Linked DNA regions of Homo sapiens: region 2 is linked to region 1. A link means that fine-mapping ties the variant in region 1 to the expression of a gene that starts in the linked region. Tissue or cell type: testis. Region 1 holds a variant in brackets; the other region holds the start of a gene. All regions are shown on one strand. Distances are between the middles of the regions.

Region 1 (4,268 bases):
GCAATAATTCCCTATATCAAAGCCCTTTTTAATAAAGATATACAAAGTAGTTTCTGTTTCCTGCATTGGACCTTAAATGATAGAAGTATCAAAAAGCTTATTCAATATCACTACCAATATAAACAGAGCTTCACTGGACATTCTTTCAGGGCAATCATATTGATCACCAATTTATGTTTCCTTTTCTTGCACAGATGGCAGAATTTTGTTGAGATGCTGACCAGAGCTTCTTCTGATTTGTTATCTGATTTGCCTACAGGTGAGTTCCATTATTTTTTTGCTCCAGAGAGACCTTCCATTTTTCACAGCTATTGTTGACTATGCTGCCTAGTTTGAGTGGTTTGCTTGTTGGGTTTCATCTCATTTCTCTCAGAAATGTAAATAGCTCCCCAGTGAAGGAAAAATGGGGGTTAGAATCACCTTAATGGCTATTCTTTTAGGCCAGTTGGATCATAAAAGGCACAATTCTCCAAGTTTTATCATGAGACATTCTCTAGTGGTAGCCCTTATAGATGAATGCAGTACATTTATGGAAGTTAGTATTATTTAGCAGAATTTCAGGTGCACAGTCGCTTAGATCAAAGAAGCTCATAGCTAGGTATTTATTCCACTGATGTCTCCACAAAAAAAAAAAAGACCTGTGAGATGTATATATATGTTTAGTGTATAGGTTTTTTTGGTAAACATTTTTAAAAACAGAAATAGCAGAAAGATCCTTCGTGGGCTATTTAATTAAATTACAATATAACCAATTGATAAAACGATGCAGTTGTAAAATAACATGGCTGGGTTGCTACAGGAAGATTTCCAAGACATATTATTAAGTGAAAATTGTAACGATGCATTGGGGAAAATATTTAGCAATTAGCAAGTTTTAAATATGACAGGTGAAAAAATATGCATTGATATTAATCTGCTGTTGTAGTTTTTCTATTTACTATATCCATCAACCATTTACTGATTGCCCTTTGGATCAAAATTAAAGTACTGAATGTGCACGCATGTGTGTGTGCGTGTGTGTGTGTCCGGGATTAAATATATCAGTCTGTATCCAAGTGGAAAAACCTAAGAAACTTTACTAGGTATTTCAAGCAGAGGGAATTTACTACAGGGGATTGGTTATGTAAGTATCCAAAGCTGAGGGATAAAAAAGAATATGGTGAGTATATTCATTTCCCAGGGCTGCCATACAAAATACCACAATCTTGGTGGCTTAAAACAATAGAAGTTTATTCTCTCAGTTCTGGAGGCTGGAAATATAAAATCAAGGTGTACGCATGGCCAGACTCTCCCTGAACACTCTAGAGAAGAGTTCTTTCTTGCCGGTTTCAGCTTCTAGCAGCCACAGGCCTCCTTTGGCTTGTTATTGTGTAACTCCAATCTCTGCCTTTGTTTTCACAAGGCCTTCTTCTTTCTGTCTTCTATATATCTCAGTATCCAAGTGTTCCTCTTCTTTATCTTATAAAGACAACAGTCATTCCAAGTAGGGCCTGCCCTAATCTAGAATGACTTCATCTTAACTTGATTACATCTGAAAAGATCTTGTTTCCAAATAAGCTCAGATTCACAGGTACCAGTGATTAGGACTTGAACATATTTTTGAGGAGGACACAATTCAATCCACTACAGGGAGGTAATCCAGACATTAGTAACTGTAGAAAGCAGCTACCACCTTAAGGCTAAGGGAACATAGAGGAAGGGGTATTACTATCAGAATCTAGTAGCTAGTGTCACCACACAGATGGTTCTAGGGTCTCCACGGAAATGCCAAGCAGCTGGAGGAAGGATTTCAGAGGGGATTCCATACAGCTGATTCTTGGACTGCGACATAATTTAAGGCTCTAAGAAGGTGGCTGCACTTGGATCTCTTACAAAGCATCATATTTTCAATGAGGAGACCATTGAAGTGATGTCACGTGGCTGTTCATCTGACCTGAGGTTTCACAC[G/A]TGGCTAGGGCTGAGAATGCTGAAAAACATTATAGCAGTAGCTCTTCTGATGCTAGGTGGATACTTGATGTGTCCTCACATGGCTTTCCTCTGTGTGTGTGCATCCCTGGTGTCTCTATAGGTCTAAATTTCCTCTTCTTGTAAGGACACCAGTCAGATTGGATTACAGCCCACCCTAACAGCTTCATTTTTACTTAATCACCTCTTTAAAGGCCCTACCTCCAAATACAGTCAGATTTTGAGATTAGGGATTCAACATATAAATTTGGGGTGGGGGATACACAATTAAGACCATAGCATATGGAATAGCAGAAAAATATGTAAAAAGATAAATTGAAGTCTCACACAACTAAATAACTAACTTATATTGGGACACTTATTTTATTTCTCTCTGACTCATTTTTCTCATATCTAAAATGGGCAAAATATAAAAGAAAAATGCAAACCTGCCCTATTGATCTTATAGGGTGATTGTGAGTCTGACAAACAAAATAGGCAACACATCACTAATTTTTATAGGCAACGTGTCACTCTCCAGAACTACAGAGTTGGGGTAGTGTTGCTGTTGCATTGTTGTTGTGATAGCTCACTGCTTATTTACTTAGTCAATGTCTTGGTCTCTTCTTGTTTCTGTACTGCTGGATCTATGATGACTAAATGCTCTTAAGCACTGAGTGAGCCATTTTTTTCTGTCTATTCTTTAGCTCCACAGGTAAATGTTATCAAAGTGAAGGAGGGGCATTATACAGAAACTTAAAAAAGATACTCCTTATGGGTGTGTAGAACTGTGAATTTTCTCTTTCCTAGGACCTCTCTGCACTCAAAGATGCCATACTAACCTAATTAAAATAACTCATTTTATATATACTGCCTTTATTAGAAAATTTATATCATTAAGAATCATAAAAATCCTGGGAACTTGTTTTTCAATGTACATATAATTTTCACATAAATACTTAATATCTGTGACTTACACTAATGACAAGGAGAGTCTACTTTCCAGCAAGCCAAACCTCCTGGCAAGAATAACTAGAAGATTAGATAAAATCCAAAAGAATATTTGTTCGAAGACTCTTACTTGGAATTCAAACTGAACTACCAGACAGAAGGGGGAGAAAAGCTCTCTGTGAAAGGAGGTATCATACAAAATCTCTTAAGTTTTTCATACAATATGTCCAGCTTCAATTAAAAATTGCCATGGATGATGTAAAGCAGGACATAGATTTTGAAATAACTGTAATTAATATGTTCAAGAAAATGAATGACAAGATGGGGAATTTTCAGCAAAGAATTTGAATCTATAAAAGGAATCAAATGGAATATCTACACTTAAATTTATAAAAATTAAAATTTAAAAGCTCAGTAGATGGGTTTAACAGATTAGACATTGCTGATGAGAGGACCAGTGAACTGTGATATAGTTCAATAGAAAATATCCAGATTGAAGCATGGATGAAAAATTAGGATGTAACACATTTAAAAGTATGTAAGAGTCTGGGTGCTGTGGCTCACACCCATAGTCCTAACACTTTGAGAGGCCTAAGTGGGAGGATCACTTGAGCCCTGGAGTTTGAGACCAGCCTGGGCAACAAGGTGAAACCCTGTCTCTACAAATAATAAAGAAATTAGCCAGGCATAGAGGTGCATGCCTGTAGTCCCAGCTACTTGGGAGGCAGAGGTGGAAAGATCACTTGTGCCCATGAGATCGAGGCTGCAGTGAGCTCTGGTTATGCCACTACACTCCAGCTTGTGCAAAAGAGTGAGACCCTGTCAGAAAAAAAAAAGTATGCAAGAGACACATAGGAAATGGTGACAACATCTAACGTACATGTAACTGAAGTCAAAGAAAAATAGGAGAAAGAGAATAAAGATGAAGTTGAAGCAATTATGACTGAGAAGCTTCCGAAAGTAGTAAAAGACCTTAAGCCACAGATCTAAGAAATATGATGAACTCCCATTAAGACACATATAAAAAGAGCTTAGGCCCCTCTAAACATGGTAAGGTCTAAAGTCTAAAATAGTATTTCACAAAAATGAAGTATGATCTCAAATTTGAATCTCTTCACTGTGGAGCCTGTGAACAAGAGAGAAGAAGAAGAGGATGCAGAAAGCAAAGAGCAGAGTTCCAGTATGACTGCTGACAAGGGAAAATTCAAAGGAAATGAGGAGTAGCGTAAGAGGCTCATTGACACCCCTCAAACATTTCTTGAAGACCTATCACTCAAGAAAACAGAAAAATGGTGAAGGCTTGGCCTCCCTTTTACTAAGGAAAAAAATACTCATACTAGTTACTAATTAGAACTACTTCTGTTGAAGGGAAA
Region 2 (4,134 bases), 66 kb before region 1:
TAGAATCAGTTTCCTTGCCTTTTCTAGCTTCCAGAGGCCGTCTGCATTCATTGGCTCATGATCCCTTCCCCAAATCCCTGTACCCTCTTGCCTCCATTGTCACATTTACTTCCTCTTCTGTCATCAAATCTCTCTCACCTCCCTCCTATAAAGACACTCGTGATTACATTTAGGGCTCATCTGAAAAATTTAGATAATCTTCTCCTCTCAAGTTCCTTCACCTAATCACATCCGTAAAGTTCTTTTTGCCATGGAAGGTAATATTCACAAGTTCTGGGGATTAAAAGGTGGACATCTTGAGGGAGGGGCATTATTCAGCCCTCTACAGCATAGCACGAGAAGCCCGGACAAACAAAGCAAATAAATACCACACTCTCAGACAAAGACACACATATTTCCTAAGAGAGAAACCACAAGTTATAGATAAGATGAAGAAGCCACTTTCAGCTCTGGAATCCAGTTTGGCTTCTTCCAAAATAAGAGCAAACATTTATATTGTTCGTTATGTGTCAGGCATTCTTCTAAGTTCCTTTCTTATATAACTCGCTTAAACTTCACAAAAAGTCATCCTCATTGTATAGAAGAGGAAACTAAAGCACAAAGATGTTAAGTGATTTGCCCAAGATTACACTGAACTAGCAGGGCAAGGATTTGAACTCAAAGTGTCTGATTCCCAAGTTCACATATCATTTGAGATCCAACTTAAAGAATGGATAGGCAGGCTGACACAGTGAGAAATGGAAGGGCATTATAGGCAGAGGAAACAAAGTGAACAAAGGCACTGAGGCAGAGATATGAAAGGGAGATTCAAGCCAGTGAGTAGACTGGGTTGGATGCAGCATAACAAGCCTAGGAGAAGTAGTGGGAGATCAAGCTAGAGATCTAGCTTGAAGTCAGATAGTGGAAGGTCTTGAAACCACAGACACCTGCTGTGGCTGATGAGATCTTTCAGACATTTGAGTAGAGGAGGGGGCTTGTCAGAGTTGGGCCTTGGGAAGACTGATCTGGAAGCAACGTGAAGGCTAGGAGGGAGGAGTGAGAAGGGAGCTGTCCCCGCTTCTCTGCTCCCTTAACACTTTCTATATCATAGAATGTGGCTGTGTGTCTCACCCTCTAGAGAGTGAGCCCCTGGAGGGGAGCTGAGTGTGCTGTCCACCTCTGGCTGCATGTGCCAGTGGGTGATATATTCACCTGTAAAGCACAGTACAGCTAGAGGTTAGGAGACAGGGGAACAGATGCTGGAGCTGCTGCTGCCTATGTTGATGCAAATAACAATACCGTTTGGGAATCAATCTAAAGTGTCTTTGCCTGCATCAGCTGAAGTTTCTTTTAGCATAATAACAACTGTCTGGAAATGTAGGATATGCAGATCTATATTCTAATCTTAGCTCTGTACTTGCTTTTGCAGGATTTGGAGTAGTTTATCAATACCCCAACTTGTTTCTTTTCTCTTTAAAATAAAGTAAAACTATTTTGTTTATAACTATTAACTTGTGAGGTGAGAGTTATCCAGCTTGTCATAGGGATCTGGCATAGAGACAGTACTCAACGTTATTATTATCAATCTATAATATTCTGGTTTTTTTGTTTCTTTGTTTGTTTGATATGGAGTCTCGCTCTGTTGCCCAGGCTGGAGTGCAGTAGTACCATCCTGGCTCACTGCAAGGTCCACCTCCCAAGTTCAAGCAATTCTCCTGCCTCAGCCTCCTGAGTAGCTGGGATTACAGGCGCGCACCACCACGACCGGCTAATTTTTTGTATTTTTAGTAGAGACGGGGTTTCACCATGTTAGCCAGGATGGTCTCAATCTCCTGACCTCGTGATCTGCCCACCTCGGCCTAACAAAGTGCTGGGATTACAGGGGTGAACCACTGAGCCCGGCCGATATTCTTATTTAATTTAGTCACCAAATCGCAGTTAGGACAGTGTTATTATTTTGCCCCGTTTCACAGATGAGGAAACAATCTCAGGGAAAAGAAGGGATTTACTCAAGCCATACAGTGGAGACGTCTGGATTTGAACCTACTGTGTTGGAATCTCAACTATGTGCAAACTCACAAAGGGAAATGAAGCCTTCGGAGGAAGGGCGGGACAAGGGTGACCACACAGGTGAGCGAGATGGGCTTCTAGAAGGACGCCCGCATATCTCTGAGGAACAGAGAAGGCACAGATCAAAAACACCTAGGCTCTTCACCCGTTGGCAGCCAGAGCCTGGGTCCATTGCCTAGGCAGTGGAGAAAAACCTGGTCCCCGCCCAGAAACAGCCTTCAGCGTCCTTAGCGACCAGGGCGGAACAGGCGCCGCCCGCGATGCGGGCCCTGTGATTGGCCGGATTCCTGGGCTCGGTCCCCACGCCCCGTCCCGTCCCCGGGTCTGAGAGTGTCAGCTTCCTGGGGAGAAGCACGGACCGCGCACCTCTGAGCTGCCAGGGTGGGGACGCTGCCCTAGCGGTAAGCCCCCCGACTCTGTTCTCTCCGGGCAATCAGGGCCGACACGCAGCTGCTGGGCAGGGAGGGGATTTGAGGATCACGAGTTCCGGGTCTGGAAGATTCCAGACAGGTGCAAAGAGGCTGCAGGTCCCCGGGATGAGGGGCTGCCCTAGCACAGGTCTTTAGTATTGGACTTTTGGGAAGAACCCTGGCCTAGACATCAGACCCAAGTACTGGAAACAGTCCCGTCCTTCATTCCTCTGTGACCCTTGTCAAATAACACACCCTCTCTGGGCCTTAGTTTTCCAATCTGTGAAGGAGCCTTTGGAGTAGAATGATTTCTAAAGGCCTTTCAGCCTCTGGGTGGTTCTAAAAGGGAGTGTTCAGCTGTGGCCAGATTTACTGAACTTCTGATTTTCCCTTGGCATCACTCTGTTTAAACACCTTGTGCAGGAGTTCAATTTCAGATTCATTGTATTGTTGTAGAAAGAGATCAGTGATAACAACAAAAGTCTGTCTGTCTTGTGTACAGTCTCCCTTCAGATGCATTATCTCCTTGGATTCACCCTCAAGTCCCTGAGAACAGACCTAGAATTACCCTGATCTCATAAATGGGGAAACTAAACATCAGAACTGAATATGGATTCTTCATATGTCCCACTAATGCCCTTGTTTCTGCTCTGACCTCACTGGAATTCCATCCTATGTCTTGTAGTACAGGAAGGTAGAGTCACCTAATGATTCAGTAGATCTGCTGTACAGACCTCTTAGGTGAGATTCCCAAGTCGGCTAATTACTGGTGATGTGATGTGATGTGAGTAAGTCATATAGCTACATTTTGCTTGTTTCCTCAACAGTAAAACAAAAATGATAATAGTAGTTAAAAATATCTTTCTCATGCCTTTGTTAGGAGTGTTAAGTGAGGTAATATAGGTGAAACACTTTGTCCTGCTATTATTATTGCTTGTTGTTATTGGCAAGGATGATGCAGTTCCCTAATGGAAAATCAAGAGGAACAATTTACTTATTTTCACCCCTAGGGATCTGAAGGGATTTTGAAAGGAATCATGTCTTCAGCCTGGAAGACTCCCCGTGGATCAGATGCAATGCCTGAGATCATGGTGAAAATCATTGGAAGTAAACACTTTCAATACCTCGTGGAGAAGCCAAAGATGTAAGTCCATATTTGAAAAATATCTATGTTGCTTGGATGATAATGAAGTTTTATTGTTTTGTTTTCACCCAGAAATTTAAACTTAAAAAATGCCATCCATGGAAAACGAAGTCATTAAGATGCAACAGTAGAGGTAAAATCGTGTTGATAACTTCCATGTGCACTGTTTTCCTGATATTTTTCATCTTTATAATTCCCCATACTCCTTAATTACTTGGGCTGATTTTCCAAATAGATGGGAAATATGAGCATTGCGACATTTATAAATATTAATGGAGCACTGCTGCCTTTTCTCATCGGGCTTGTAATCTACCACATGTACTAATTTTGGGGAGAGTGGGGGAGGTTTAATAGTCAATTTGTTGTGAATTACAGGAGTAGGATTAATACAGAATCATAAATTGTAAGGTTTTCACTTACTCCTGTTTGTATTTGATACTCCTCTAAGCTTGGGCTTCTCAGATCATGGCTAAGATCTCTTTCTTCTATTCCAAACCCATCAGAGTCACATTTAAGAGATGACACTCCTGT

Alleles and levels. Positions count from the first base shown, and alleles are read on the strand shown. Sizes are in standard deviations (SD) of each study's normalised expression.
With allele A in place of G in region 1, the expression in testis of the gene that starts at base 2,370 in region 2 is higher (small effect, 0.16 SD a copy in GTEx).

The links. PIP is the estimated chance that this variant, and not a neighbour inherited with it, causes the effect.
Region 2: it holds the start of C1orf87, and the variant in region 1 is the best candidate, but not a certain one, in a credible set for the expression of C1orf87 in testis (GTEx, PIP 0.70).

Annotation. Positions count from the first base shown.
Region 1 is chr1:60,006,383-60,010,650 of GRCh38, reverse strand. It overlaps C1orf87 (chromosome 1 open reading frame 87), which reads left to right. Exons shown (of 12, transcript NM_152377.3): 9 at 195-259. Among named protein-coding and RNA genes, the nearest start is that of C1orf87, 65 kb to the left of the region's middle. The variant G/A (reference allele first, on the strand shown) is at 1,948.
Region 2 is chr1:60,072,006-60,076,139 of GRCh38, reverse strand. It overlaps C1orf87 (chromosome 1 open reading frame 87), which reads left to right and starts at 2,370. Exons shown (of 12, transcript NM_152377.3): 1 at 2,370-2,450; 2 at 3,470-3,603. The coding sequence starts at 3,497.